7 linked regions of the Homo sapiens genome follow. The protein of the gene in region 1 interacts with the protein of each later gene in a pairwise test. Each region holds a gene or a part of one and is shown on either strand. Other genes may lie near its edges. The genes, in order: CCK, MCFD2, SPRYD7, ANKEF1, SPRY4, NFYB and ZBTB8OS.

What was found.
Region 2: the proteins of CCK (region 1) and MCFD2 interact in binary tests that used the Homo sapiens proteins (3 or more experiments, as listed by UniProt).
Region 3: the proteins of CCK (region 1) and SPRYD7 interact in binary tests that used the Homo sapiens proteins (3 or more experiments, as listed by UniProt).
Region 4: the proteins of CCK (region 1) and ANKEF1 interact in binary tests that used the Homo sapiens proteins (3 or more experiments, as listed by UniProt).
Region 5: the proteins of CCK (region 1) and SPRY4 interact in binary tests that used the Homo sapiens proteins (3 or more experiments, as listed by UniProt).
Region 6: the proteins of CCK (region 1) and NFYB interact in binary tests that used the Homo sapiens proteins (3 or more experiments, as listed by UniProt).
Region 7: the proteins of CCK (region 1) and ZBTB8OS interact in binary tests that used the Homo sapiens proteins (3 or more experiments, as listed by UniProt).

The regions. Positions count from the first base shown.
Region 1 is NC_000003.12:42,256,914-42,260,433, forward strand, and holds the end of CCK (cholecystokinin preproprotein), read right to left. Parts: intron 1,319-3,520; coding exon 1,185-1,318; 3' UTR 913-1,184; downstream 1-912. UniProt on the Homo sapiens protein: This peptide hormone induces gall bladder contraction and the release of pancreatic enzymes in the gut. Its function in the brain is not clear.
Region 2 is NC_000002.12:46,909,236-46,913,325, forward strand, and holds part of MCFD2 (multiple coagulation factor deficiency protein 2 isoform A precursor), read right to left. Parts: intron 1,639-4,090; exon of another isoform or gene 1,545-1,638; intron 1-1,544. UniProt on the Homo sapiens protein: The MCFD2-LMAN1 complex forms a specific cargo receptor for the ER-to-Golgi transport of selected proteins. Plays a role in the secretion of coagulation factors.
Region 3 is NC_000013.11:49,915,599-49,919,688, forward strand, and holds part of SPRYD7 (SPRY domain-containing protein 7), read right to left. Parts: intron 2,624-4,090; exon of another isoform or gene 2,495-2,623; intron 1,867-2,494; exon of another isoform or gene 1-1,866.
Region 4 is NC_000020.11:10,033,639-10,038,165, reverse strand, and holds the start of ANKEF1 (ankyrin repeat and EF-hand domain-containing protein 1), read right to left. Parts: upstream 3,180-4,527; 5' UTR 2,833-3,179; intron 2,588-2,832; 5' UTR 2,524-2,587; intron 1-2,523.
Region 5 is NC_000005.10:142,314,923-142,319,012, forward strand, and holds part of SPRY4 (protein sprouty homolog 4), read right to left. Parts: exon of another isoform or gene 2,139-4,090; intron 234-2,138; coding exon of another isoform or gene 187-233; coding exon 1-186. UniProt on the Homo sapiens protein: Suppresses the insulin receptor and EGFR-transduced MAPK signaling pathway, but does not inhibit MAPK activation by a constitutively active mutant Ras. Probably impairs the formation of GTP-Ras.
Region 6 is NC_000012.12:104,135,411-104,139,393, forward strand, and holds the start of NFYB (nuclear transcription factor Y subunit beta), read right to left. Parts: upstream 2,801-3,983; 5' UTR 2,731-2,800; exon of another isoform or gene 1,799-2,730; intron 123-1,798; 5' UTR 44-122; coding exon 38-43; exon of another isoform or gene 34-37; intron 1-33. UniProt on the Homo sapiens protein: Component of the sequence-specific heterotrimeric transcription factor (NF-Y) which specifically recognizes a 5'-CCAAT-3' box motif found in the promoters of its target genes.
Region 7 is NC_000001.11:32,640,389-32,644,478, reverse strand, and holds part of ZBTB8OS (protein archease), read left to right. Parts: intron 1-4,090. UniProt on the Homo sapiens protein: Component of the tRNA-splicing ligase complex required to facilitate the enzymatic turnover of catalytic subunit RTCB. Together with DDX1, acts by facilitating the guanylylation of RTCB, a key intermediate step in tRNA ligation.

The sequences.
Region 1 (3,520 bases):
AGGCACCTGGGGCCTCTGCTGGACAAGGATCAGAGGGTCTTGGAGGCCTCAGCAGGAAGCATGGAAAGGTTGCACTGGGGGTGGTGGGTACTGGATCATCTCTGGGTGTCGCCTTGGACTATTTCCCCTCACTGATTTCTACAGCGAACCAACAGACAGATTGGCTTCTGCTCTGTATAACTACCAGAGTCTCCCCAGCACTTTGGAGTCCCACCAACTCCAAAACATGGCGGGGCTCAAGGAAAAGCGATTATAGGCTCTTATCTGCACCACTGCAGCTCCAAGTGCGGTCTGCAACCAGCAGCATTGACATCACCTGGAGCTTGCTCAGGCTCCTGCCCAGACTTGTTGAATCAGAATGTGCAGTTTAACAAGATTCCCCGGGTGATTCCTGTGCACTCAGTTGGAGAAGTGCTAGAGTGATGAAGGTCCCGATAGCCTAGGAACATTAAGCCCTCCAGTCTGTGAATCTCCTTAGCTGGGGCATAAGGGGCAGTCACTTTCACTCTTCAGAGCCTGTTTCCTCATCTGTAAAGAAAGGATGATAACTTCTGTGCCACAGAGCCATGGAGTGATCAAATGTATGCAAAACCATGGCCAGTTACTGCCTGTAACTTGTTTAAAGGCCAAGAGAACCCCAAGGAAACCCTGATGGGAGTAGGATTGGTAAATAAGATCGGGGATCAGGGTGGCCAGGGCTGGGCTCTGGAGTTGCCCACAGATGGCCCTTTCACTGTCCACCTGGCCTGTAGCAAAGTTAGCTCCAAGTCTGAGCTGCATTTCCCAAGCCCTTTCTGGGGACATCTACTACAAGGATTTGTCCCAGTGTAGCATCTATCAGGCTTCCCTCCTTGCATGTTCTGAGGACCAAATGGAGCCCTTTGCCCTCAGTAGACGCAGGGAACGACAGGGCAGAATGAAATCACTTTAATAGCATAACAACATTTTCAGACCAGGAGTCACAGATGAAGAAAACATTTTGTCTTCCATTTGCACAATTCTGGTGAGGTGTGTGGTTGCACTGGACAATCTTACAGACACATTTTTCACATTGAGAACTTAATAAATAGATACATACAATGTCAAACTCCACAGACAATGAGTTATGAGTGTGATTGTTTTCTTATTCTGCCTCCTCTGGGTTGGGAGGTTGCTTCCCGTTGGGCTGATGGCGGCTGGGTCCTCTAGGAGGGGTACTCATACTCCTCGGCACTGCGACGGCCAAAATCCATCCAGCCCATGTAGTCCCGGTCACTTATCCTGTGGCTGGGGTCCAGGTTCTGCAGGTTCTTAACGATGGACATTCGTCCAGAAGGAGCTACAAGGAGCAGGGAGGAAGGAAACAGGGACATTGCATCTAAAAGCATCTCTAGTTCAATTTGGGAAGGAGAGCAATGGAAAAAGCCAGACGCAATATAACAGACACCACCTTAAAGGTATCAAAGAGCTATCAAAGTAGTGGAACTGATGGACCAAAATCTGAGAGAGGAGAAGGACCAATGTCTGTGTAACTGGAGAGAGGACAATATATTTACAAGTTAGGGGTGTGCTTTGCGTTCTGCAAGTATTTAGGTGGATTCATTTTCTCTAGCCTTGCAGTCTGGGGACTTGCCTAGATTTTCCTTAGTCTCCCTACCGTTTGCTTTCTTTTGGTAGATGGGTGTTTTCCTTTTGTAGATGGCATCAGCAGAAACCAACCAAAGATTTTTCCAGTACTTAATTGTTCCTAAATTCATCCCTTAATATCCATCAACATTCCTGACTCCTGGAGAGCTCTTGTTATTAAGGTGGCACAATTATAATATCTTGATGTTGGAATGGTTAAAAAAAAATCGTTGGTGGGAGTGTAAATTAGTTCAACCATTGTGGAAGACAGTGTGGCAATCCCTCAAGGATCTAGAACCAGAAATACCATATGACCCAGCAATCCCATTACTGGGTATATACCCAAAGGATTATAAACCATTCTGCTATAAAGACACATGCACATGTACGTTTACTGCAGCACTATTCACAATAGCAAAGACTTGGAACCAATCTAAATGCCCATCAATGATAGACTGGATAAAGAAAATGTGGCACATTTACACCATGGAGTACTATGCAGCCATAAAAAGGATGCGTTCATGTCCTTTGCAGGGACATGGATGAAGCTGGAAACCATCATTCTCAGCAAACTAACACAGGAACAGAAGACCAAACACCGCATGTTCTCACTCATAAGTGGAAGTTGAACAATGAGAATACATGGACACAGGGAGGGGAACATCACACACCAGGGCCTATCGGGGGGTGGGGGTTAGGGGAGGGATAGCATTAGGGGAAATACCTAATGTAGATGACTGGTTGATGGGTGCAGCAAACCACCATGGCATGTGTATACCTATGTAACAAACCTGCATGTTCTGCACATGTACCCCAGAACTTAAAGTATAATAAAAAATAGATAAATAAAGCTCCTTTGCTACATAAATACTCTTTTAAAAATATGAATTTGAAAGTTATATTCAGAAAGCTTTTGTCATTTATCAGTAAGTGTTTTGAGTTGATGATCATTTTATTTTTAATGATAAATCAATATCAATTAAAAATGATATTCAGAAAAAGACTGTCGGATTAAATCTTGGCACCTCAGTAAGACTCAAAGAAGGGGGGGAGAGAGGTGATAACAAAGGTGATTTAAATCAGCAATTTTGACCAAAATGCAATAACTGAACCTGAAATTGTCCCATTGGGATGGAAGTTAAGTCTTCAGGAACAGTGTGATCCTTTTGTAGAGCTCACACTGAGTGAGCAGGGACATGAAGAGGCAGTTTATTTGGAGACATGAGACAGTCCTAGCTCAAAGTTCATAGACAGAAGCCTCCTGGGGTATGAAATCAGCAGAACACCTTCTCCTGTGCAAGCTCAGTCTTAAGAAAGGCCCTTCAGGGACTTCAATGGACAAAGCCCAGGCCAAATCAAGGGTAGAGGAGTGGAGGACCACTCAATGACTCCCACTGTGTTGGGGGCCACTGTATCCCCACCTCCTGTCATGCTGGTCTATATCCCTTCTGCATGAGGCTGCCCTTGCCAGCTCCTACCCATAGGCTGAGTAGAGTCAGACTATGGCTTATGTGTTGATAAATGAAAATGCAAAGGCAGTTACCCTGGGTAATGAAATTAAGCAAGTTTAATTAAAAACAGAAACAACACAGAACAACGTCCCCACCCTTTCTCTCCCCAACCCCAACCCTTCCCAGTTTTGGAACCAACAGTCAATTCAGCACATTTCAGGTCTTTTTGCAGATATCCTCAGCCTACGTAGAAGAAAAATAGCCCCTGCTATTTAATTGTTCATCATTCAGGTGAAATATTACCCTTGAATTCAGGAAAACCTATAGACCCAGTTACCTGTACACAGTCACATGGAAACATGACCCATCCTTCTGCCTGCTGTGATGATGAGTGCCCACTCTAAGGCCTGGGCACAACCCAAATTTCCATCTAATGGAAGCAAGGTGACAGCTTCAATACGAGC
Region 2 (4,090 bases), on another chromosome or scaffold:
GGGCTTGACATGGTATGATCCTGGGAAACCTGATGAAGCAGTAAGGTTAGGAAGAGAGCTTGTCAAACACGGCCCAATGCCAGCTCTGCTTTGAGACTGTGGGATGACCCTGGGCACTCCAAGTCACTCAAATGGCAGGGGAAGGCTCACGAGGTTTCCTGAAGTGCCTGCAGAGTGCCAAGCAACACGTGAAAGCTTGAAGGGACTGGAAGATTATTCTTGCCTCCCAGAAGTTATGGTCCCCTGAAAGAAATATTTTCTATCAAGAGCACCAGGAAAGGCAGCCAGCAAGTTATATCAGATTATCAGAGAAAGCGAAAACCCTCTAGGAGTTCAGGGGAAGAAATCTCCTCCGAGTGGAGGAAAATCAGAGAAGGCTGATAGAGCTGGTGACACTTCAGCTGGGCCTGGACAGATATGCAGGGACTGAAGGACCACAGGAATGGTGGGAGCAGAGTGGCAGGTGCCCACAAGCGGGAAAGAAACTACAAGTAGTTCAGCTGGGCTGCAGCCTAGAGGGTAGGAAGCAGACAGGACAGAGGTGGCTCCAAGGCCTAGACAGGCTGTACTGGACAGGGCTTTGCACACTAGGCCAGGGCTTGACATCTCCTGCAGAGAAAGACAGGAGAGTCACTTACAATTCATGAATGGGAGGTGAGATCAGAGCTTGGTTTCAGAATGACTCATCTGGCAGCACAGTGGGGAAGGCATGAAGTGGCAAAAGCAAGACTAGAGGCAGGAGCATGGTAGCCAAGGGAGTGGTAAGGCGGGTCAGATCAAGGTCTGCGGCAGCGGACAAGGTTCTGTACCTCCTGGGTGGTAACAGTGGCAAGTAACTACAGTGAGCGGGCACTGGAAAGAAAAGTTACAGAGAAATCAGGATGCCATCAGGAACTCCCAGGGTTTGGCCACACTTGGAATTGTGGTCAATAAGATGACAGTCAGCTACAGAGCAAGCTCTTGGAGGGCAGGGAGAACTTTAACCCCACCAGTATTACCCGCCAAGGGTCAGGCAGGCCTTTAATAATTGTTGATTCAATGGAAAGTCTTGGTCTGTCCTAGGGCTGACAGACTGACCTCAAAAAGGAAGGTGAAGGACAGCCAGGTGACCTACATACAAAAACAAAAGACCTGACCGAACACTCACTTCCCAACAGGCAAAACAGATTCTGCTAGATAACAAGGCCAGGGATTTCTAACAGGTCAATTGTAGTCCACAGCCCCAAACCAGCAGTGGTAAAGACAAACCATAAGGCACTGGTCATCCCCTTTACATGCTACACACAGGGCTCAGCTCAGAAGCTGTAGCTGTCTTTGTGCCTGGGGCTGAGAGGTAGAGGTGTTATAGTCCCTCTTACCCATCCTAAAAGGCTCTCAGGGCAGAACCCTGAAAGTGTGAGTATGCCACCCTACAACACTTAGAAAAATTTCCCAAATCCGTTTTTCCCATTACCAGTATTGCTTCCCATGGCCCCCTCCTTAAAGGGGACAATAGTCACTGGGATGTCTAACTTCCAGGATAGGCCAGGCATGGTGGTTCATACCTGTAATCCCAGCACTTTGGGAGGCTGAGGCAGGAGGATCACTTGAGGCCAGGAGTTTGAGATCAGCCTAGACAACACAGTCAGACCCCCATCTCTACAAAAAATAAAAAATTAGCTGAGCGTAGCAGTGCACCCCTATAGTCCCAGCCACTCAGGAGGCTGAGATAGGAAGATTGCTTGAGCCCAGGAGTTCAAGGCTGAAGTACACTCCAGCCTGGGTAACAGAGTGAGACCCTGTCCTCCACCACCAAAAAAAGGAAGAAACTTCCAGGGTGCTAAAAAGCACCTAGAATCTAGTCTACTTCTAAACAGTGACATCAAAATGCAATCTGTCTCAGACCTTTTATTTTTTAATTTTTATTTTTTTGAGACAGAGTCTTGTTCTTTCGCCAGGCTGGAGTGCAGTGGCGCAATCTTGGCTCACTGCAACCTCCGCTTCCCAGGTTCAAGCAATTCTCCTGCCTCAGCCTCCCGAGTAGCTGGGATTACAGGTGCATGTCACCACGTCCAGCTAATTTTTGTGTTTTTAGTAGAGACAGGGTTTCACCATCTTGGCCAGGCTGATCTCGAACTCCAGACCTCAGGTGATCCACCCGCCTCGGCCTCCCAAAGTGCTGGGGTTACAGGCATGAGCCACCGTGCCCGGCCACCTCAGACCTTTTATATCTGTAGTTTAAAAAAAAAAAAAAGCAATATGTCATACTTAATAGGAAAGAATGCTCAATATATATTGAATGAAAAAGAACAGGCTGCAAAAAAGCAATAAAGAATAATACACTTTTGTAAAATAAAAATGTGTATTTCCTACACAAACTAATAACAAAGATTATCTTGAGACATGAGATTAGAATTGTGATTTTCAGCCGGCATGGTGGCTCGTGCCTGTAATCCCAGCACTTTGGGAGGCCGAGGCGGGCAGATCACGAGGTCAGGAGATCGAGACCACCCTGGCTAACACGGTGAAATCCCGTTTCTACTAAAAATACAAAAATAAAAATTAGCCAGGCGTGGTGGCGGGCACCTGTAGTCCCAGCTACTTGGGAGGCTGCGGCAGGAGAATGGCATGAACCCGGAGGTGGAGCCTGCAGTGAGCCGAGATCTGCTACCATTTTTTATGAATATGTATTCAATGTAATCTATCCCATAATTTTGTCCCAATACTATATGGATCGGATACAAAAGGAGTTTCCGGTTAATTCTTATCTCCACAAAATAATTCAGAAACAGTCAGAAACTACACTTCCAATTTTACCAAATAAAAGTGCCCAGACCTTGGCCAGGGACAGTGGCTCACATCTATGATCCCAACACTTCGGGAGGCCGAGGCAAGTGGATCACTTGAGGTCAGGAGTTTGAGACCAGCCTGGCCAATGTGGCAAAATGCGTCTCTACTAAAAATACAAAAAAAAATTTGCTGGGCATGGTGGCGTGCACCTGTAATCCCAGCTATTTGGGAGGCTGAGGCACAAGAATTGCTTGAACCCGGGAGGCAGAGATTGCAGTGAGCCAAGATCACACCACTGCACTCCAGCCTGGGCAAGAGAGTGAGACTGTCTCAAAAAAATTTTTTAAACGTGTCCAGACCCTGACAAGGCCACTGCCACTGTACCTGGTACCACAAAACAAGGTTTCAGGTTACTCCTAGCAGTGACTGCCTAGGCCATAGCAGAACAACTTGTTCTGACCACACATCTTAGAGTTCTGGGACAGGAAGGATCAGAGAAGGGAATCAAGCTCCTCCCAAGCCTTTCAGACTCATTTACATCAAATGTCTCTTTCTCCAGTGAGGTCTTTTCAATTCCAAGTCTGGTGTAGGTATTCGTCCTGCAGGCTCCCAAGTGCTTCCCTTCAGAAGGCTCCCGTCCACAGCTGATGACAGCTGCAAATTAATTCTTTTTTTTCTTTTGTTTTCTTGTGTGTGAATGAATTCTTGAAAAACTGCCTGATTACTTGTCAGTGCCCCTTGCTGGATGGGCTTTAAGAGGACTTGGACTGAATCCACATTCCCAGTATCAGGCACAGTGCCTGGAACAGAAGCTGCTGGTTCTTAGCCTGTGTGCCATGGTCCTTGGGGAGCTGGGGGGATTACCACCTTTGCAGATATGCTGCCAATTTTTAATGTCACTGTAACTGAAGATGAAACTTTTCTTTTGGAGATATCTATCATGGAACTCATGGCACCATTTCCTCCAACTATGTGATTGGATGCTTAGTATATCAATTTGGTGTGTGTGTGTTGGGGGTGGGGGAAATTCTATTTAGATAACACCAAAAAGCAACCAAGTGATTAATCATGTAGTAACTATGAGTCCAAAATATCCCTTCTTTAAGGGAGGTGGGATAAAGGCCAAGAATCACTGATTTTGAACTTGTCTCATTTTGGTTTGCTGTTGCAGGTTTCTAATCATTGGAATGCAACAAAAGCCAAATCGATAAACATAAAGAAAAAAAATTCCTCCAAGTGGTACACTGAAAACAGGGAATCGGGCTGGGCATGGTGGCTTATGCCTGTAATCTCAATACTTTGAGAGGCTGAGGCAAGTGAA
Region 3 (4,090 bases), on another chromosome or scaffold:
ATGACTACAGCTCAACATCCAAACCAGGAAACTGACATTGGTACACTACTGTGAACTAGACTGCAGGCCTTACTCAGCTTCTAAATGTTTTTACCGGTATTTACTCAAGAGAAATGAATGTGTATATCCAAAGACATATTTTCAAACGTTCACAATAGCTTTATTTGTAATAGTCCCACACTGGAAACAACCCTAATGTCCATCAACTGGTGAAGGATAAAGAAATTGTGATATATCCACACAATGCTACACTTCTCAGCAATAAAAACTGATGAATTATTGATATATGCTACAGCATAAATGAATCTTCAAATAATTGTGCTGAGTGAAAGAAGCCAGACCAAAAGAAAAGACCATATGATTTTGTTAATATAATACTCTAGAAAATATGGGCTAATCTGTAGTGACAGAAAGCAGATCAGTGGTTGTTTGGTTGGGGCTGGGGTAGGGAGTGGTGAGTAGGATATAAGAGGCAGAAGGAAACCTTTGGGGTGGTGAATATGTTCATTACCTTGACCCTGGTGATGACAAAACAAAACATGACCGTAAAGCAAAGCAAGTAAATAATCAGCACTGCCACCCAATAGTGATTACTCCCCCTGGGTGAGGAATGCAGCTGTGGTGCGGGCTGCATCTGGGCCAAGAAAATGTTCTATTTCTTGATCTAAGTGGTAATAATGTGAGTGTTCACTTGATAGCTATTTGTTAAATTGCACATATAAGTTTAATGCACATTACTATATACTTTATATTTCAGCATAAATGCAGAAAAAAATGTAAATACTGGATTTGACATTCATGAAGTCACCAGTGATTTTAACAAGGGTGGTTTCAATTAGTGGTGTAATGGCAGCTGAATTGGGTTGCAGAACAAACGAACAATAACAATAAAGGTGTCAAATGCTCTACCCTTGAGCTAGTCAAGTAATCTATACAACAAACCCCCCACCGTGACACCAGTTTACCTGTGTAACAAACCTTCACATGTACCCCCGAACCTAAATGTTAAAAAAAAAAAAGAAAGAAAAACAATAAAGATGGCAGATATAGGTTATTCTAGAAGAAATGTGGCCATCCAGGGAAGGGGAAACACAGGACTAGTGAGGGATGCATGCCCAAAGAAGGGCGTTTGGGATGGGGCTTAGAATGTTTATAAGCACTGAAGAGGGAGGCCCATGACATGAGATATCGATGAAATAACTGACAAAGTGACGTTCCAGATTTGGGGAGTTTGGAATCCAGACTACAGATAGAGTGTTTGCAACATGCAGAGTACCACTTCTGGGATGAGATGGAAAGAAGGCAGGATTGGACCTGAAGAGAGGGAAGCTGGAGTTCACTTGTGATTGCCTGTTTTTTTTGTAAGGTAGAAGGCAAGGCATTTTCAGAGGATGAATAGAGAATGCAAGAAGCACAGAATGCATAGACATGCACAAAGAATTGCTGAAAATTATTGAGAGCTCAGATTAGGCTAGAAGTCATAACTTTGTTTTTTTTTGTTTTGTTTTGTTGTTTTCTTTTTTGAGACAGAGTCTCGCTCTGTCACCCAGGCTGGAGTGCAGTGGCATGATCTCGGCTCACTGCAAGCTCCGCCTCCCCGGTTCACGCTATTCTCTTGCCTCAGCCTCCCAAGTAGCTGGGACCACAGGCACCCGCCACCACACCCAGCTAATTTTTTGTATTTTTAGTAGAGACGGGGTTTCACCCTGTTAGCCAGGATGGTCTCAATCTCCTGACCTCGTGATCCGCCTGCCTCAGCCTCCCAAAGTGCTGGGATTACAGGCGTGAGCTACTGCGCCCAGCCAGGAAGTCGTAACTTTGTAACCACACTTCTTCAGTGTTATGCAGTCTTTTTCTTTCTACAGGCTGAGTGTAAGAAGAGACAAAATGAATGATTGGATTGATCAAGGATTAGGGATGGAAGACAAAAGAGTAAAGGGATTTAAGTTTTATGTTTATCTTTGATAGGATCAGGCTATTAAAACACTTGGTTTAATTGGACTGATTTATGAGTTCAATTTATGAAATATAATTTAGTATCTATAACCTTAGTACATTACAAATAATGCTGAATAAAAGAAACAGTTTAGAGCATTAAACTTATTTGCTACAGTTAACTTGTATAACTGTCACTCTACTGATATTTATTTTATTTCTCAGGCTAACCTATTTCAAATATCAAGCTAAATTTCCATTTACTCAAGTAAATAAAGGAATTGCTTTTAGGCTTACCCAATATGCAACACTAAATTGAGTTTTAAAACACACATTTACATGCAAGGACACAGAAGGTAAAATGACTGAAAAGTAATTTTAGGAGAAAAGAAGGCTAATGAAAACCTTAAACTAAAAGGTAATCACAAGCTTTGGCTATTATCATATTATTATTTATATTTGTTATTGTATAATTCTGACATCCCAGTTTGTCATCATTGATACTGCTATTTTTATTTTAGTATTTTAATTTTATTTTGCTTTTGAGACAGGGTCTTACTCTGGTGCCAAGGCTGGAGTGCAGCGGCACGATGATCACTGCTCACAGGAGACTTGACCTCCCCGGCTCAAGAGATCCTCTCAGCTCAGCCTCTCAAGTAGCTGGGACTACAGGCACGTACAACCACACCTGGATAATTTTAAAATTTTTTGTCGAGACGTGTTCTCACTATGTTGCTCAAGGCTGGTCTTCAACTCCTGGACTCGAGCAACTCTTACCTCAGCCTCCCAAAGTGCTGGGATTACAGGCATGAGTCATTGCACCAGTGCTGCTTTTATAGTAAACTACAACAAATGTAATTAAATTAGTTCTTTTTTTTTTTTTTCTTTTTTTTGAGATGGAGTCTTGCTCTGTCACCCAGGCTGGAGCACAGTGGTGTGATCTCGGCTCACTGCAACCTCTGCCTCCTGGGTTCAAGTGATTCTCCGCCTCACCCTCCTGAGTAGTTGCGATTACAGGTGTGTGCCACCACACACGGTTTCACCATGTTGGCCAGGCTAGTCTTGAACTCCAGACCTCAAGTGACCCACCTGTCTTGGCCTCCCAAACTGCTGGGATTACAGGCATGAGCCACCGTGCCTGGCCTAATTAGTTATTTTTCTTTCTTTTTTAATTTTATTTTATTTTATTTTTTTTTGTGGAGACTAAGTCTTGCTCTGTCGCCCAGGCTGGAGTGCAATGGCATGATCTCGGCTCACTGCAACCTCCATCTCCTGGGTTCAAGTGATTTTCCTGTCTCAGCCTCCCATGTAACTGGGATTACAGGAGTGCGCTACCACGTCTGGCTAATTTTTTGTATTTTTAGTAGAGATGGGGTTTCACCATGTTGGCCAGGCTGGTCTCAAACTCCTGACATCAAGTGATCCACCGGCTTCGGCCTCCCAAAGTGTTGGGATTATAGGTGTGAGCCACCACGCCAGTCCTAATTAGTTCTTATTATAACCCAAATTTAAGAACTTAAATGAGAAAATATTTTTAGACTTACAAAACCAAAGGCAGAAAAATCATATACCTGTTTACTTAAAGTTGATAATACAAAATAGGCTGGACACGGTGGCTCATGCCTATAATCTCAGCACTTTGGGAGGCCGAGGTGGGCAGATCACTTGAGCTCAGGAGTTCGAGATCAGCCTGGCCAACATGGTGAAACCCCATCTCTAGTAAAAATATAAAAGTTGGCCAGGTGCTCACACCTATAATCCCAGCACTTTGGAAGGCCGAGGCGGGCAGAACAGAAGGTCAAGAGATCAAGACCATCCTGGCCAACATGGTGAAACCCCATCTCTACTAAAAATACAAAAATTAGCTGGGTGTGGTGGTGCGTGCTTGTAGTCCCATCTACTCGGGAGGCTGAGGCAGGAGAATCGCTTGAACCTGGGAGGCGGAGGTTTCAGTGAGCCAAGATCGTGCCACTGCACTCCAGTCTGGCGATGGAATGAGACTCTGTCTCAAAAAAAACAAAACAATACAAAAAAACCCCAAAAGTTAGCTGGGTGTGGTGATACACACCTGTAATCCCAGCTACTCTGGAGGCTGAGGCACGAGAATATCTTGAACCCAGGAGGCGGAGGCAGCAGTGAGCCAAGATCACAACAC
Region 4 (4,527 bases), on another chromosome or scaffold:
AGATTGTTTTTTAAGAAATGTTCAGAAAGTAGGATTTATACATAAATATCAAAAATATTGAGTGGGCATAAAGTTAAAACAGTTCAAACAAATCTTCCATCATAATTAAAAATAGTTTGCCAGGTGGTTTTCTTATTATCCATTTAACCTTCCCTCCTCATCACACTTTACCATTTTACCATGAAGAAGCTGAGGTTAACTAAATTGCCATGGTAAGGGTTTGAGTTCCCACCATCTATCTACATGGTTTCACACCAGCAAAATAGAGAGATCATGCAGGTTTTAATAGTTTTAAGGTGTTATAAAAACATATAATTTTGAGGTGTTCATTATAAACAAATCTACTGGGCTCTGTAACATATCAGAGATGTGATGAGTGATTCCTATGTCATCTTAAGTGGAAAAGATGTAGTTAAATGGCTGCAAGGAAACTGCAAATCTTCATAAACAATCTCCCTGTTAAATTGTGATGGGCATTCTAGTATGTAATTTTACCTCCTTGTACGGAAAATCTTTTGGATTGAGTAGCAGGCCATGCTAGGTATGACCAGTTGTTTCTTCATTTCTTATGAGAAAAGAACTCCATTATCACATAGGGAATCCTATCCGGGTCGTTTGGATGGGGCTGTCCCTTCTGTCCCCTGCCAGAGGAAAGCGTCTGTGGCCTAGGCTTGGCCCATTTGAGGGAACCATCCCTTTCCAGGTACACTGAAGCTCAAGCATATGTGCATAAAAGACATCAACCAATCAGCAGCCCATCATCCAGAACTATGAGGGAAGACTATTCTGCTGAAGTTGTTAAGCAGTATGGTGTGGGGCTGGGGCGCAGGTAGCTCTCTTGGGTGCCACAGAGAGAGTCCATGCTTGGAGGATGGAGAGAGACTGAGATTGATGGCATTAGTTGCAACATGGATTCCATGGTGCCAGAAGCCATCTACCACTTTGTGGGTAAATACATCTTCTCCCCCGTCACCTTATTTTGGTATAAGCTAGTTAGCTAAGTTTCCAACATTTGCAATGAAAAGATTCCATCTTACTACAAAAGTTGAAACTATGCACCATTTTTCTCCATCGCAAGCCTGCTCCCTCACCTACATTCTCTACGGCAGTGAGCTCTCTCTCCTTTAAATGTGTCTCTCTAGGCACCACAACATCTCCATCGCCTGCTTCCATCCAACACCAATGCCCCCTCCTGCTCAGGCTCCTTTGCTGACTCCCCATTTCAAGAAGCCTATGTTGGGTGCCCAGGGCTAGGTCCTCAAGACTCTTTTCTGTCCTCACACACTCCCCTGGTGTCTCGCCCTATCCCATGACCCTCGACCCTCAGCCCAACTCTCACTCTGTCACCCAGGCTGGAGTGTAGTGGCACAATCTCGGCTCACTGCAACCTCCACCTCCTGGGTTCAAGCGATTCTCCTGCCTCAGCCTCCCGAGTAGCTGGGATTACAGGTGCCCACCACCACACCTGGCTAATTTTTGTATTTTTAGTAAAGACAGGGTTTCACCATGTTGGCCAGGCTGATCTTGAACTCTTGACCTCAGGTGATCCACCCGCCTCAGCCTCCCAAAGTGTTGGGACTACAGGCGTGAGCCACCGGGCCAGGCCTCCTTTGCCTTTTAATCTGTTTATAACATGCGGTGGACTAGGGAACCAACTGAGGCTGCCTCAGAGTCATCCACTTGGACTTTGCTGCACGGCTTGGTGACACTCACCTTAGCTGCTATTTATGGCTTGTTTTATTATTATCGGCCATATTCCGATTAGGTGCGGTGTCATCATACTGCATATGTATATGTGTCATCTATGGAATAGGGCAAGATGCTCCTACATAGGTAATGATTAGACTGAATCAATGCCACTTGATTTGTGAAAATAAGGATTTCCCAATCAGGGACTTCAATGTTGCCTCTGTTAGCACCCATCTCTAACGGAGAATTAATTAGCAGCTACAGTGATGAATTCAGTAGGTCCATGGGTCGGTTTCCTGTGGACTGCCTCCCTCCCAGCTAAAGCCCTGAAGTGCTGGGGAGAGGGCAGCACCCTGTATAGTGTCCTTCACAATCAACTGCTAAGACTGACCAAGAGCTCACCCCACTGCAGGAAATCACACAAGTGTAGCCCTTGGGTCCTGGGTTCCTTGTAAATTGAGCAGCATATAGGATCCTCCACATACAAGCACACCTGTACTTTTCCCCAGCATGACCCTGGGCCACCTTAGTCACATCTAACCATCTACCAAGGTAGTGGAATAGAGCAGAATGTCTTGACTTGAGGTCCATGTTCGGGGTCTGAATACTCGGAAATTACATGAAAATCTGTGGGAATCTGTGTGTGTTCAGGTCATTTAACTCTCAAAGGGGGGCTGTGCGACAAGGAAGGATCATTAGAAAGAGGAATGGAGGAAGACAAGCTTGGTACAGTGGAATGTAGGGTTTGAGGTGGGGAAATCCGTTGTGATCCTCCCTTCCCTGTATCATTATTTACACAAACTAGTTGGATATAAATATGGATATGCTACCTACCTAGTTTTTACCTCAGTTTCTGCATCTGTGAACTGGCAATAGCAATGGTGCCCACTTCATGGGACTGTGTGAAAAGGAAATGAGATATGATCCTTGTAAAACATTTAGCAAAGTCCTTCAATATAGGCTCCTTATGAATACACCAAACTTTTGCGGGTTTCAGCTCACCCACAAGTGTAAGCGATAGTTTACATGTTGGGGGTTCTCTACTGTGCTTTCCACTTTTTAGTCTCCAGAAAAATCTGGAGAAGAGAGGAGTGGAGGGGGTAGAGATGTAACGTCAAAGGAAAAGCCATGTGTCATGCTCACCTCTTAGTCTTCCGGGCGATCAGAAGCCAGGGATCTCTGGGCACCTATGTGCCTGGGCCTGCTGGGGCGACCGGGGAGGCCCCTGCTCTCGTCCTCTGACGCTCAGCGCTGGCCCAGCCGCGACCTTGGGCTCCCGGAGCCCGGCGGAGGCGCCCAGGCGTGAATGATGTCCCTTGGGTAGGGCTGGTGAGCTGGCGCGCGGGACAGCAGGGCTGGGTGTATGTGTCCATGGGCCCCGGGTCCCCGGAAGGCGAGCGCGCGGGCAGGTGAGCGCAGGGGGCGGGGTGGAAGCCGGAGGGACCGGGCTGATTGTGAGCTTCCGCCACGCAGGGCGCGGCTGCCGGGGCAACCGCAGCGTGCGCGGTGGGGCGGTGCTCGCCTCCGCCTCCGCCTCCGCCTCCGCCTCCGCCTCCGCCTCCGCCTCCGCCTCCGCCCCCGCCCCCGCCTCCGCCTCCGCCCCTCGCGCCTGGCTTCGACGCCAGGTGGCCGGCCTGGGCGGGATGGGGTAGCTGCGCTGGGTGTTCCAGGGCGGAGCGCAGAATGCTGCTGTCTTGAGGATTCCGCCCTTCTCTCATTCTCTTCTCCCACCTCCTGCCCTGGGTCAGAACGTAATTTAGTTATAAAATTAAAGCTGCATATGGCAATTAAAAAATGAAGTAAAATATACAATAAATATTTAGTTTACAAAGTACAATTAAATGAAAAATACAATAAATTACACAATAAAGCGAAAGTGAACCTACTCTCAACTGCCACAGATTCTTGCAAATCTTCCCAGAAATTTTCTTTCCATACTCTAGGATGCATATATGCTTAAAAAATATTTATACACAAATGGAAGCAAATATGGAGATCACTTTATTTCAGGGCCTACAAATGCACCATAACACCCCTCTCTCTCCCTCCACACATGCTTTTTGGCGGAAAATTCTGAAAGCTTTGGTTTGATTATGTGAATGTAAAACATATATATGTGTGTCTATATATATATGCTTTTTAATGCAGTATGTAATTGCTTCCAATTAAAAACAGTAATTCCTTACACCAGCCTACCCTATTCTACTCAGAGACTGTTTAAAAATGTTAAGAGCGAAGACATGGAATCAACCTAAGTGCTCATCAATGATAGACTGGCTAAAGATAATGCGGTACATATACACCATGGAATACTATGCAACCATATAAAGGAACAAAATTATGTCTTTTGCAGGAATATGGAGCTGGAGGCAATTATCCTTGGCAAGCTAACGCAGAAACAGAAAACCCAATACTGCATGTTCTCACTTATGAGTGAGAGCTAAGTGATGAGAACACATGGACACATAGAGGGGAACAGCACACACTGGGGCCTATTGGAGGGTAGAAGGTGGAGAGTGGGAGGAGGGAGAGGATCAAGAGAAATAACTAATGGGTACTAATCTTAATACCTGGGTGAGAAAATAATTTGTGCAACAAAACCACATGACACAAGTTTACCTATATAACAAATCTGCACATGTACCCCTGAACTTAAACGTCAAATAAAAAATAATAAAAATGTTATTAAGGACTATTTCATGCACACCAAAATATACTGTATGATATATGGAAAGTACATACCATACCATACCATAGCTAAAGAAATACCATAGCTAAAGAAAAAGAAAGCTAGGAAAAATAAAGGAAAAAGGAAAAGGAAAAAAAAGTCTGCCTCTA
Region 5 (4,090 bases), on another chromosome or scaffold:
GGTGGTCAGGGCCAGGCTAGGGTTGTCTATGTAGTCATTCTCCACATGGCTGGTCTTCACCTGGTCAATGGGTAGGATGGTGAGTGGGTGCTGGAGCCGGCTGTGGGACATCCGGCTGTCAAGAAGGGGCTGGACCATGACTGAGTTGGGAGTCAAGGGGGCGCTCTGTGGGATCGGGGGCTCCATGGGGCTGGAGGTCCTGGACTGTACGGAGAAACAGGCTTCTAGGGGCCCTGGGGGTGGGGTGGGGAAAAGGAAGAGAGAATGGATTCCAGGCATCAGTATGTGGCCTGCCAATACCTCACCCCCCATCAGGTCCTTGGGAGCCGCCCAATTGACATAGGAACTAAAATCCCTCTGTGGACTTTCCAGTGACTCCCCAAGCTTAAGATGATTAATAATGACAAGAAGTCAGTGGTGGAAATAATACTACTGAGCACTTAAGATGGAGGTACTCTCCTAAGCACCATATGCATTAAGTCATTGACTTCATGATAAGCCTAAAACGTAACTACTATTATCCCCCTTTTCTATTTAGAGAAAAGACATGTTGAAATTAATTTGTCCAAAGTCACACAAAACTATCCAAAACTATCAGTAGCAGGACTCAAACCTGGGCAGCCTGAGTTCATTCTCTTAGTCACTGTGAAACATGCTCCTTATTTAAGACACATAGCTCAGTGGATGTAAACACAGGCTCTGGAACAACACTCAAATTTGACTCTCACTTTGGTCTAGCAATATTGCTATGAATGAGTTCTTTCATCTCTATGCCTTAGATTTTGGTTTTGTCATCTGTAAAATGGGCTCTTGCAAGGATTAAATGAGAAAATACTATCTATTACCTAGCATATTACCTGGCACGCAGCAACAATTTATCGCTACCCCAGGGAATAAGTTTAGATCTCCTGAGCACTTACAAGCACTGCCTGCCAAGCACTGTGCCAGGCACTGGGGACAATGTGGTGAACTCAACAGACAGCTCTGGGTGCTCCCATGGAGTTTATCAGCTGGATAAACAAGCCCTTTATTTCAGATATTCACAAGAGAAGGGCTGTATCTGATGCCTGCACATCCAGGATATTAACTTATTACTACCACTTCTTAAGAGCAGCAACCTGCAGTGGCTAATAATCCCTGGGTATGTGAGCTTCTGACAACTTGGATGGGAAATCCTCTCGAGGGGCACTCACATCACCCATTTCCAAGTGCTGAGCTGAACATTCAGCCTAAATGCTATTTACTAGAGTAGCTAAGCCAACCCTGGATCAGTTTCTAATTTCACCGAGAGAGTGCAATTTTAAGTTGGAATCCAGCCAGAGATTCAACTGCAGTGCCTGACACGGAACCCCAGGAAGTCACTTAAATCAAAGAGCGGAAACTGCTTGGTTCAAATTTAGAAAGTGCACATTGTTTTCTATTAGAAGTGCCATTTCCTTGCCTGCTGACCTTTACATTTGGAATTCTGCTGGAGATCAATTTAAAGAAATAGCAGCAGAAGGCCAAGACCTCTGCTCAAGGGGATACAATTTGGAATCCAAGGGAAAGATTACACTCTGGGAAGATTCCACCCCAATCTTAAGAACCCCAGGGAATGGGGAGGGAGGGTAAAAGAGAAAGATAAGTCTTTAAAACAAAACCAAAAAAAGGCCATTGCATTAATGTATTATGGGGTGGGGTTTTAGTAAATGCTTTTGCATTTACTAAATTTGCATCAAGATGCTAACGATGTTCTAATTAGGAGAGCTGATCCTGCCCCTCTGCTGTTAGGTTTATCTAGAACCTGTCTAAAATAAAAAGCTAGCTCTAGATAAAAGTTTATGAAGGGGATAAAAAGGGGGCTATCCACGGGGCTCCAGTATGTATATCACTTACACTGCTAAATCCAAAAAGCATCCAGTCTTTTCTGCGAGGTTCAATGCTCAGTCAACTGATATTTCCCATTCACGCAGGGCATCAACTATTGGCTTTGCTCCCATGGCCCTGCCTACTTAAAAGGATGCTGGTATTTCTTTACACGCCTTGTTTTTCCTGTCTTGGAGAAAGCCTACCTAGTGGCAGTGCCTGCCCCCATGTTCTCTTCGGATGAAACCATAGCATCACCTTTGAATTGGCGATTTCCTTGTGGCAGAGTTTACCTTAAGTGTCTGGCAGGTCTGCCACCAAAGAGTAGCCACTTGCCAAAGCAGCCTCCCCTGGAGATCCTGTGGTCAGGGCTGGAGAGAGGGAATGCAAGTAAGCATCTATGGAGAGGAGTTTTTCCAAGGATCAGGCTGATGACAACGTAGGAATTCCAGGGAATGCTACCTCAGCCTGCCCACTTATTCTCAATAGGTGTTCCAAAGCCTTGCTTCTAGAATAAATGAGTTTGGGGCAAGAGGCCAGGGTTAGGAGCCCAAGGTCCAGCACTGAGGACGCTGCCTGGAGGAAAGGGTGTGGCTTGGCCTAAGAATTAAAAATGCCACGGATAAGATTCTCCAGCACCAGCCAGAACCCTCACCCCCGGACAATGATAACATGAGTCCCTTGTTCCAGAAACCGATGTCAGGAATATTCAGGGTCCTGCCAACACAATGTAGGCAGCAGTTTGAAGCTTCTATTGCCCCATATAGTTGGGTTTTGTCTCTCAGGACCAGGATTGGGTCTGGTCATGCTGTGGAAGAAAGTAAAAGACTCCCTTTCCTTAAGCAGATTCACTTTTTTTTTTTTTTTTCATTTGTGAGGTTCTTTAAAAACAGCCCATGTCCTACAGATAAAGCAAAAGAAATGGGCAATGCTCAGAAATTTTAATAGGCCTTGGAATCAGAAAGCAGATTCCCCAATTCATGGAAAAGTCCCACCAGGAAGCCAGGATGGGAGCAGCCGCTGCAGGCAATGGGGATGTTGGCATTCACAGGCTCCCATAACCCTCCAGAGGCAGCTGTCAACATCTGGGCCTGCAGTTGAGGCCAGACATGGGGATGGGAGCTTGGCCCACGATGACTTGGCTCTCTGGGGACGATGCAGCATCCGATGGCTCCACTGGGCATATTCTAAAATGTATCTTCCCTATTATAACCCCGATGTAGTAGGATTCCTTTCAACCACCAGCTCAGCAAAAACCAAATCAGAGTTCCACTGCTGGCCTCACCCCTCACCAGCAGGGACCCTCCAAGAGCCTCTGCTGAATTTATGTGGCTGACAAAGGAAAACAATTTTCTGAGCTGCCTATTTAAGAACCCCTCAGCACAGCTAAATGATGTCTCAAAAAAAAAAAGAAAGAAAAAAAGAAAAGAAAGAAGGCCTGGCGCAGTGGCTCATGCCTGTAATCTCAGCCTTTTGGGAGGCCAAGGTAGGCAGATCACTTGAGGTCAGGAGTTCAAGACCAGCCTGACCAACAGGATGAAACCCCCATCTCTACTAAAAATACAAAAATTAGCCAGGCATGGTGGCAGGTGCCTGTAATCCCAGTTACTTGGGAGGCTGAGGCAGGAGAGTCACTTGAACCCAGGAGGCGGAGGTTGCTGTGAGCCAATATCGCACCACTGCACTCTAGCCTGAGTGACAGAGCAAGACTGAGTCTCAAGAAAAAAAAAAAGAAAGAAAGAAAAAGAAAAAACAACTCTCAGTTGATTTGGTAGATCAATCTCTACTCACTGAGAAACACCCACCCTCCACTCTGAGCAATGCTGACAATCTTAAGTGCAATTTAATATGTGCTCCCTGCTTCCCCTGCAAGGTAGTAAGAGATTTATAATATAAATAAGAGAGAGGAGGTTTTGCCTCATTTAAGCAGTTTGGAAGAGACTGATGGCCAATTTGGAAGACACTGGACAGAGAAACAAACCCAGCACTCCACTTAGCCAAAGAAGCACCTCTATCAAGTTTAGGTGGTACTCTTACGAACTGGCAAGAGGGAAGGGACTTTTACCTCCACTCAACCTTCTAATAATAATAAATAATAATTATGGAAGCGGCTAATATTTACGAAACATTTCTTGGTGCCAGGCTCCGTGCTAAGCCCTCAGTGATTTATTTTCTCACCATAAATCAAGTCATTTAATCCTCACCATACTTCAAGAGAGAACCCATTTTACAGAGGAGGAAATGG
Region 6 (3,983 bases), on another chromosome or scaffold:
AATCTAATTAACAACCAAAATGGTAAAATATACTTACTGTCATGAAATACTGTCAGAACCGTGTTGTCAGTGGTGCTGAAGAACACCTATCTAAAAAGGTGTCTAATCTTTGTGATTTCAACCTAAAAGATAAACATCTATTAGGACCTAACATCTATCAATAGTAAAAATACATCAAATGTATCACTTATAGGCTTTTTTTCTCATAAAATTAAAGAGGGCTTGTATAATTTTGACTACTATTCTTAATCAATGGAGTACATGGTATAAAATAGTATAAAAAGGCACCCAATAAATGTTTGTTGACTTGAAAGATTTATTTTGGAGAACTTAAAAACAAGTTAATTCCATGGGGAAAGGAGAAAATGGATTTTCCAACATAACCCTGAATTTAGCCATATTCATCATAAACATTCATTACAATACACCAAAAAGGGACCAAATTATATAATATGCAAGAGACCAAAAATTATACATCTAAATTACTTAAAACATTAACACTCAAGATGCAAACACACCCCTTATCATCTTAATTTTTTGGTGATGGTTTTCTTAAATGTTTCAGAGTAACATTTAGACATTCTATAGCTCAAGAGGAGGAAAAAATTATCTGAGAATATAATGCTTTTCAATTAAGAATCTCAGATTATACTGTAATGAAGATACATTCTGCACTGAGAAGATATCAAAAAAGCAACACAATCAAGACCCTTATTTATAATTTTGAAGCACCACCATTTTTGACTAAAATTGCATCGAAATAGCACTTCAGTCTCACTGTAAGGCATAAATAGCTGAACAAATTAGTACCAATTGCTGTGTTACAAGTTTCATTTCTCATTTGCTCCATTCTTTCTCAAAGGAAACAATTAAATGGGGGAGGGGTAGGATGCCAAAACAAAAACACATCCTTTCAGTGTTAATTTTAAAGGGAGAAGATATACTGATACGCATCCAAGCATGAAATCTAGCAAATAGCAGAAAAAATTGTAGCCACTGAATTGAAAGTTTTTAATGCCACTAAAAAGGTCCAGGTAGCAAAAACTGCTTGACGTTTGCTATAATATTAAAAGTAATTTATAATTTCTTTTCAAATATTAATAGTATCCTCTAACCCCAAAACTGCTCAGAAAAGTCCTTCCTTGTAACGAGAAATGTTATTTTTTAAAGAGTGTCTTTGAAAAAATAAGCCCTCAGAACACTTAAAACATGGGAGCTATATTTATGTATTTTGCTTGGAATGGGAGAGGGGGGTGTGGGCAGGGAGTCATACCACACCACACTCACTCACCCAAATAGTTGATTCAGTATATATTTAGACTCAGTACATTAAAGAAAAACACTGTCACCTCATATGGTGTATATTTTCTTAAGGGCAGGTTGATATATGTAAAAGCTCAAGGGAATGCATACATCTGTTTAATGTTTTAAGAAATGCAAATTTGTATCCAAGAAAAGCAGTAGTCCCTTCCTCCACCCTCCATTCTTTGGCATCAACAACCAGAGTTTTGCATCAATATACAGTAATCCTTAAATTAAGATACAAGAGCAATGCAGGGAAGGAATAATTTGCCTTTTAAGGAATTTTGGTTAAACTTTCAATACTTTACAAATAAACCCCCCACTGATTAGTGCCACTGATATTGATCCGTTTGCTTTCATCACTTTATGTTGCTGATTAGTTTCCATACTAAGAGAGATGAAACCACCCCAGTGATTTGTAGCACGAACCACGCAACTATGGGGTCCATGCGGGTTAGTGGGATGCCATTTTTTTAAAGGTCGCAGGCTACCTAACCTTGTTTAAATTATCCTGTTAGAGTGCTTTGGGCGAGATTACGATTTGTGGGTGCTCTGTAATTCTTTGTTCTCTAAGACTACCGTTCTTTAAGGCCCTGCATATCCTCCCGCCTCCCACCACTAATGATTAAAACCTTAGTCCAATCCGAAGGGCTTCCTTCCCACCTTCGGGGCAAGTACAGGGACCGCAAACCGCCAGATGGCTGCATTCTTTACGCGCAAACCAGGCTGCGGGGAAGCTAAAGCCATGCCTTCCTCCCCACGCAGGTGCCTGGGTGGCCCCGGCCCCACGGCCTGGTCCCGGCGACCTGTCAGCCCTGCGAGTGCCAGGAGGCCGCCCCCAGAGCGCATCCCCTGACTCGCCCGGCCGCCCCGGCCCCGCGCCCAACGCCTGCCTCCCACCCGCCGCGCGGCCCCCGGGATGTGCGGGCAGACAAAGCGCCGGGCCCCGCCACAGCCCCGCGGGCGGGAGGAGGGCGCCCCCGGGGACTCGCGCCGCCGCCGGGGCTACGGGGCCAGGGCCCGGGCCGCGTCTCCCGCCCCTCGGCCGGCTCCCCGCACAAAATGGAGCCGGCCCGGGACGCCGTCGAGAGCGGGGCCCCGACGCAGCCCCGCGGCCCCTCCTCGGCCCCGGGCCCGGAGCTCAACGGCGGCGAGGGTGAGGTGGCCTGGCCCGCGTCCCGCCGCTCCTCAGCCCGGCGCACAAAGAGCCGCGCCGCGGCCCCGCGCCCGCTCCCCGGCCCGGCCCGCTGCGGGAGCGGCCTCGCAGGCGCGGGGCCCGGCCTCGGCCCGCGCGGGAGGGCGGGAGGCTAGTGCCCCCGGCCGCGGCGGCGTTGGCGGCGGGGACGGCGCCGGGAGGAGACGGACATTTCATTCGAGCTAAAGTGGAGTCGGTTTAGGAGCGATCATTGGCCGAAGCGAGACACAAACCTCCAATGCAGCCCTGGTTGGCTCCCGTCTCCAATCGGCTGTTTGGTTGGACAGAAAATGGCTGCGAAGGAACCAGTCCCAGCGCGGAGCTCCGCTTCCAGGACTCGGCCTCCCCTCCCTCCGCCGCGGGCCGCTTCCCTCGGCGCGACACCCTCCCTCCGCGCCGCCCGCGCGCCCGCCCGCCGCGGCCCCGCCCCGCCCCGCCCCGCCCCCGGCCCCGCCCCGCCCCCGGCCCAGTCCCGCGTTCCTGTGAGGCCTCCGCGCCGCTCCGGATGCCGCTCCTCTAGGCGCGAGGTCTTCCAGGGCCCTGCCCGGGCGCGCCGTTCGGGTCTAGGCGGGCCTCCTTCCCGGTGCTGACCCGGGCCTGTGCGAAGCGGGATCTCTCGGGCGTCCCTCTCTTTGTCACCCCTTCCCCCGCCACGTGGAGGTGCCTCAGCCGCCTGAGCTCAGCCTGCCTGCGCCTGGATTTTTAAGAAGGGGAAACCAAGGACAGAAGCCGCCCCCTAGGACGACGCGCCCGAGCCACCGGGAGGGTCTGAACGGCGGGGGCCTCCTGGAGCGCCTTCAGCGCCTCGTGTTTTCTTTCCTTGGGTCCCTGTTAGCGTCGCCGCATGCACAGCGCTCCCTGTCATTTGGTCCCTGAGCTTGGGTGTTTTTCACATTTCATCTAAAGATGCAGACCCCTGCTAAGTCTAGCCAGCCTTCACCCTGAATCTTGAACTTAAGATGCTGCATTTTCCACCCACCCCCACCCCTCTAGTAGCTGCAGATTGACAAGCGGCTTTTCCCAACCAGATGACATTTTGGCTGCAAGAATCCGTGGCCCGTTCTTGCCTCTGTGCAGCCAAGCTCCTTCGCTGTCTTTCTCAAACTGCAGTCCTGAGTTCAGCTTCGCTTAGCAGTGACCATCCCAGAGGTGGGTAATCCAACACTGGATCCACTCACTGCAACCGGAGCTGGGGATGGCATGCCCTCTGCTTCCACTAACCGAGTGGCCTGCACCACATTAAACTCTCCAGCTTTGATTATGTAAAAATACAGAGATCTTTTATTTATAGAGTTCCTACTGTTTCTCAGAGTATTTAAACATTTCTGCGGCAAGTATGGAAGAAAAGACAAATGAAAGCCCCAAATTGTGACAAGAGGAGTAAGTAGCAATGCCACTGTCATCAGACAACCTGACTTGAATTCCAACTCCCCTTCTTACAGGCTTGTGATCTTGGCCAAATGTCTGCTTCTCAGGGTTGTTTGGG
Region 7 (4,090 bases), on another chromosome or scaffold:
ACACTTTGGGAGGCTGTAATGCCCAACCTGGTATTTACTAACTCTGTTTTTAGACTCTCCCTTTTCCCTTAATCACCTAGTCTTGTTTCCACCTGAATTGACTCTCCCTTAGCTAAGAGAGCCAGAGAGACTCCATCTTGGCTCTTTCACTGGCAGCCCCTTCCTCAAGGACTTAACTTGTGCAAGCTGACTCCTAGCACATCCAAGAATGCAATTAACTGATAAGATACTGTGGCAAGCTATATCCGCAGTTCCCAGGAATTCGTCCGATTGATAAACGCCCAAAGCCCCGGATCTATCACCTTGTAATAGTCTTAAAGCCCCTGCACCTGGAACTGTTTACTTTCCTGTAACCATTTGTCCTTTTAACTTTTTGACTACTTTACTTCCGTAAAATTGTTTTAACTAGACCCCCCCTCCCCTTCCTAAACCAAGGTATAAAAGTTAATCAAGCCCCTTCCTTGGGGCCGAGAGAATTTTGAGCATTAGCCGTCTCTAGGTCGCCGGCTAATAAAAGACTCTTAATTTGTCTCAAAGTGTGGCGTTTTTCTAACTCGCTTGGGTACAACAAGGCCAAGGTGGAAGGATCACTTGAAGCTAGGAGTTTGAGCAACCTGTGCAACCTAGTGAGACCCCCATCTTTTTAATAGAAAAAGAAAAAAAAAAGTAAAAAAAATTAGCTGGGGCCAGGCATGGTGGCTCACGCCTGTAATCCCAGCACTTTGGGAGGCTGAGGCAGGCGGATTACGAGGTCAGGAGTTCAAGACCAGCCTGGCCAACATAGTGAAACCCCCTCTCTACTAAAAATACAAAAAATTAGCCCAGTGTGGTGGTGCACGCCTGTAGTCGTAGCTACTCGGGAGGCTGAGGCAGGAGAATAGCTTGAACCCGGGAGGCAGGGGTTGTGGTGAGCCGAGATCATGCCACTGCACTCCAGCCTGGGCCACAGTCCCAGCTACCTAGAGGCTGAGGCAGGAGGGATCTCTTGAGCCCAGGAGGTCAAGGCTGCTGTGAGCCATGATTGTGCCACTGTACTCCACCTTGGTAGACAGTGAGAACCCATCTCTTTAAAGAAAAAAAAACCAAAAACTAAAACAAAAACTAAAGGCCAAGTGCAGTGGCTAATATCTGTAATCCCAGTACTTTGGGAGGCCAAGGCGGGTGAATCACCTGAGGTCGGGGGTTCGAGACCAGCCTGACAAACATGGAGAAACCCCCGTCTCTACTAAAAATACAAAAAATTAGCCATGCGTGGTGGTGCATCCCTGTAATCCCAGTTACTTGGGAGGCTGAGGCAGGAGAATCGCTTGAACCTGGGAGGCAGAGGTTGCAGTGAGCGGAGATCGTGCCATTGTACTCCAGCCTGGGAAACAAGAGCGAAACTCTATCTCAAAAAAAAAAAAAAAAAGGCCAGGCACGGTGGCTCACGTCTGTAATTCCAGCATTTTGGGAGGCCGAGGCCCGCAGATCACCTGAGGTCAAGGGTTTGAGACCAGCCTGGCCAACATGGTGAAACTCTGTCTCTACTAAAAATACAAAAATTAGCCGTGCGTGGTGGCGCGTGACTGTAATCCCAGCTACTCCGGAGGCTGAGAGCAGGAGAATCCCTTGAATCTGGGAGGCGGAGGTTGCAGTGAGCTAAAATTGGACCATTGCACTCCAGCCTGGACGACAGAGGAAACTCCATTTGAAAAAAAAAAAAAAAAAAAAAGACCTAGAATTGATGGAAAGGGAATGTTCTGGTTAAGATAAAAGATTGTGGAGAACAAAGTTCTTTTGAAGTCCTATAGTGGCTGCCCTTAGAGACAATAGAAGACAAATGTTTCCTATTCAGATGTTAGTTAACATCTTTAGGATTGGGAGGGTCTGGAAGAAAAAGATCTAGCTATGTTAATAGAGATTCTTTACGGATGCAAATTCTCCCCCAGAAAGAACAGCTTTGCCGGGCCATTTCTTTTTTTTTCTTTTTTTTTTTGAGACAGAGTCTCGCTCTGTCACCCAGGCTGGAATGCAGTGGCACCATCTTGGCTCACTGCAACCTCTGTCTCCTGGGTTCAAGCAATTCTCCTACCTCACCCTCCCGAGTAGCTGGGATTACAGGTGCCTGCCACTACGCCCAGCTAATTTTTGCATTTTTAGTAGATACGGGGTTTCACCACGTTGGCCAGGCTGGTCTTGAACTCCTGATCTCAGGTGATTTGCCTGCCTTGGCCTCCCAAAGTGCTGGGATTACAGGTATGAACCACCGCGCCCGGCCCTGGCCATTTCAAAATATGGCAAAGAAACATGCTTTGGGGTAAAATATTTTGATTTTCTTCCTTGTGTTGTATCTTGTAATTTTATGCCAGACTCAGGTTAGAAAGTAAGTCACGATGTATAGGGTTAAATAAAATACTTCTGAAGAGAATTTGTGATTTGTAGGGCATGACTCCCCAAACCCCTTAGATAGGAATTTGGGCAAGATAAAAAAAAATCAGAGTTTAGTTGTCATAATATTCTATGTAACAAAATTGGAAGTATGTACAAAGGTTTTGTTTTGTTTTGTTTTGTTTGAGACAGTCTCGCTCTGTCACCCAGGCTGGAGTGCTGGAGTGCAGTGGCACAATCTCGGCTCACTGCAACCTCCGTCTCCCGGGTTCACGCCATTCTCCCGCCTCAGCCTCCTGAGTAGCTGGGACTACAGGCGCCAGCCACCATGCCCGGCTAATTTTTTTTTTTTTGTATTTTTTAGTAGAGACGGGGTTTCACCATGTTAGCCAGAATGGTCTCGATCTGCTGATCTCGTGATCCGCCCGCCTCGGCCTCCCAAAGTGCTGGGATTACAGGTGTGAGCCACCGTGCCCGGCCTGTATAAAGTACTTTTGTGGCATGTTAAGTGTTGATTACTTGTGGAAAAGAACAATAATTGGCCGGGCGCGGTGGCTCATGCCTGTAATCCCAGCACTTTGGGAGGCCGAGGCGGTGGATCACCTGAGATTGGGAGTTCGAGACCAGCCTGACCAACATGGAGAAACCCCATCTCTACTAAAAATACAAAATTAGCCCGGCGTGGAGGTGCATCCCTGTAATCCCAGCTACTCAGGAGGCTGAGGCAGGAGAATTGTTTGAACCCAGTAGGCAGATGTTTTGGTGAGCTGAGATCGCGCCATTGCACTCCAGCCTGGGCAACAAGAGCAAAATCTGTCTCAAAAAAAAAAAAAAAAAAAAAAAAAACTTGTGTAATTGAGTTGTGAGCTGAACTAGGTCCGTTTTTCATGGAACACTTTTTCTTGAAAGAATGAAAGACATGCTTTTGTTATTCAGACTTCAGTATTTGGCTTGCTCTATTGCCCAGGCTGGAGAGCAGTGGCACGATCTCGGCTTACTGCAACCTCCACCTTCTAGGTTCAAGGGATTCTTCTGCCTCGGCCTCCCGATTAGCTGGGATTACAGGCCCCACCACCATGCCCAGCTAATTTTTTTTTTTTTGTATTTTTAGTAGAGACAGGGTTTCACCGTGTTGGCCAGGCTGGTCTTGAACTCCTGACCTCAGGTGATCGGCCCACCTCGGCCTCCCAAAGTGTTGGGATTACAGGTGTGGGCCTCCACACCCTTGAAAGTGAACAGTGATCTGTCACATCAAGGAAAATAGCTGACAATATTTGTTGATAATGGTAAAATTCAAGTCCAGTTAAAATTTTCAGGCCTGATGAGCTTAATCTCAGCACTTTGGGAGGCCAAGGGGGACAGATGGCTTGAGCCCATAAGTTCGAGACCAGCCTGGGCAACGTGGCAAAACCCTGTCTCTTACAAAACATTAACTAGGTGTGGTGGTGCGTGTCTGTAGTCCTTACCACTTGGGAGACTTGAGGCAGAAGTATCACTTGGACCTTGGAGGTCTAAGCTGTAGTGAGCTGTGATTGTGCCACTGCACTTCAGCCTGGATGACGGAGTGAGACTCCGTCTCAAAAAAGAAAACAAAAAGATTCATTCTAAGTGCATAATAGATCAATGGATTTTAATTTTACAATATGGTAAGTTCATTGTGATGGTTACAGAATCCACATTGCAACTAACGTTGAAAAAACTACCATGTTTTGGCCGGTGCGGT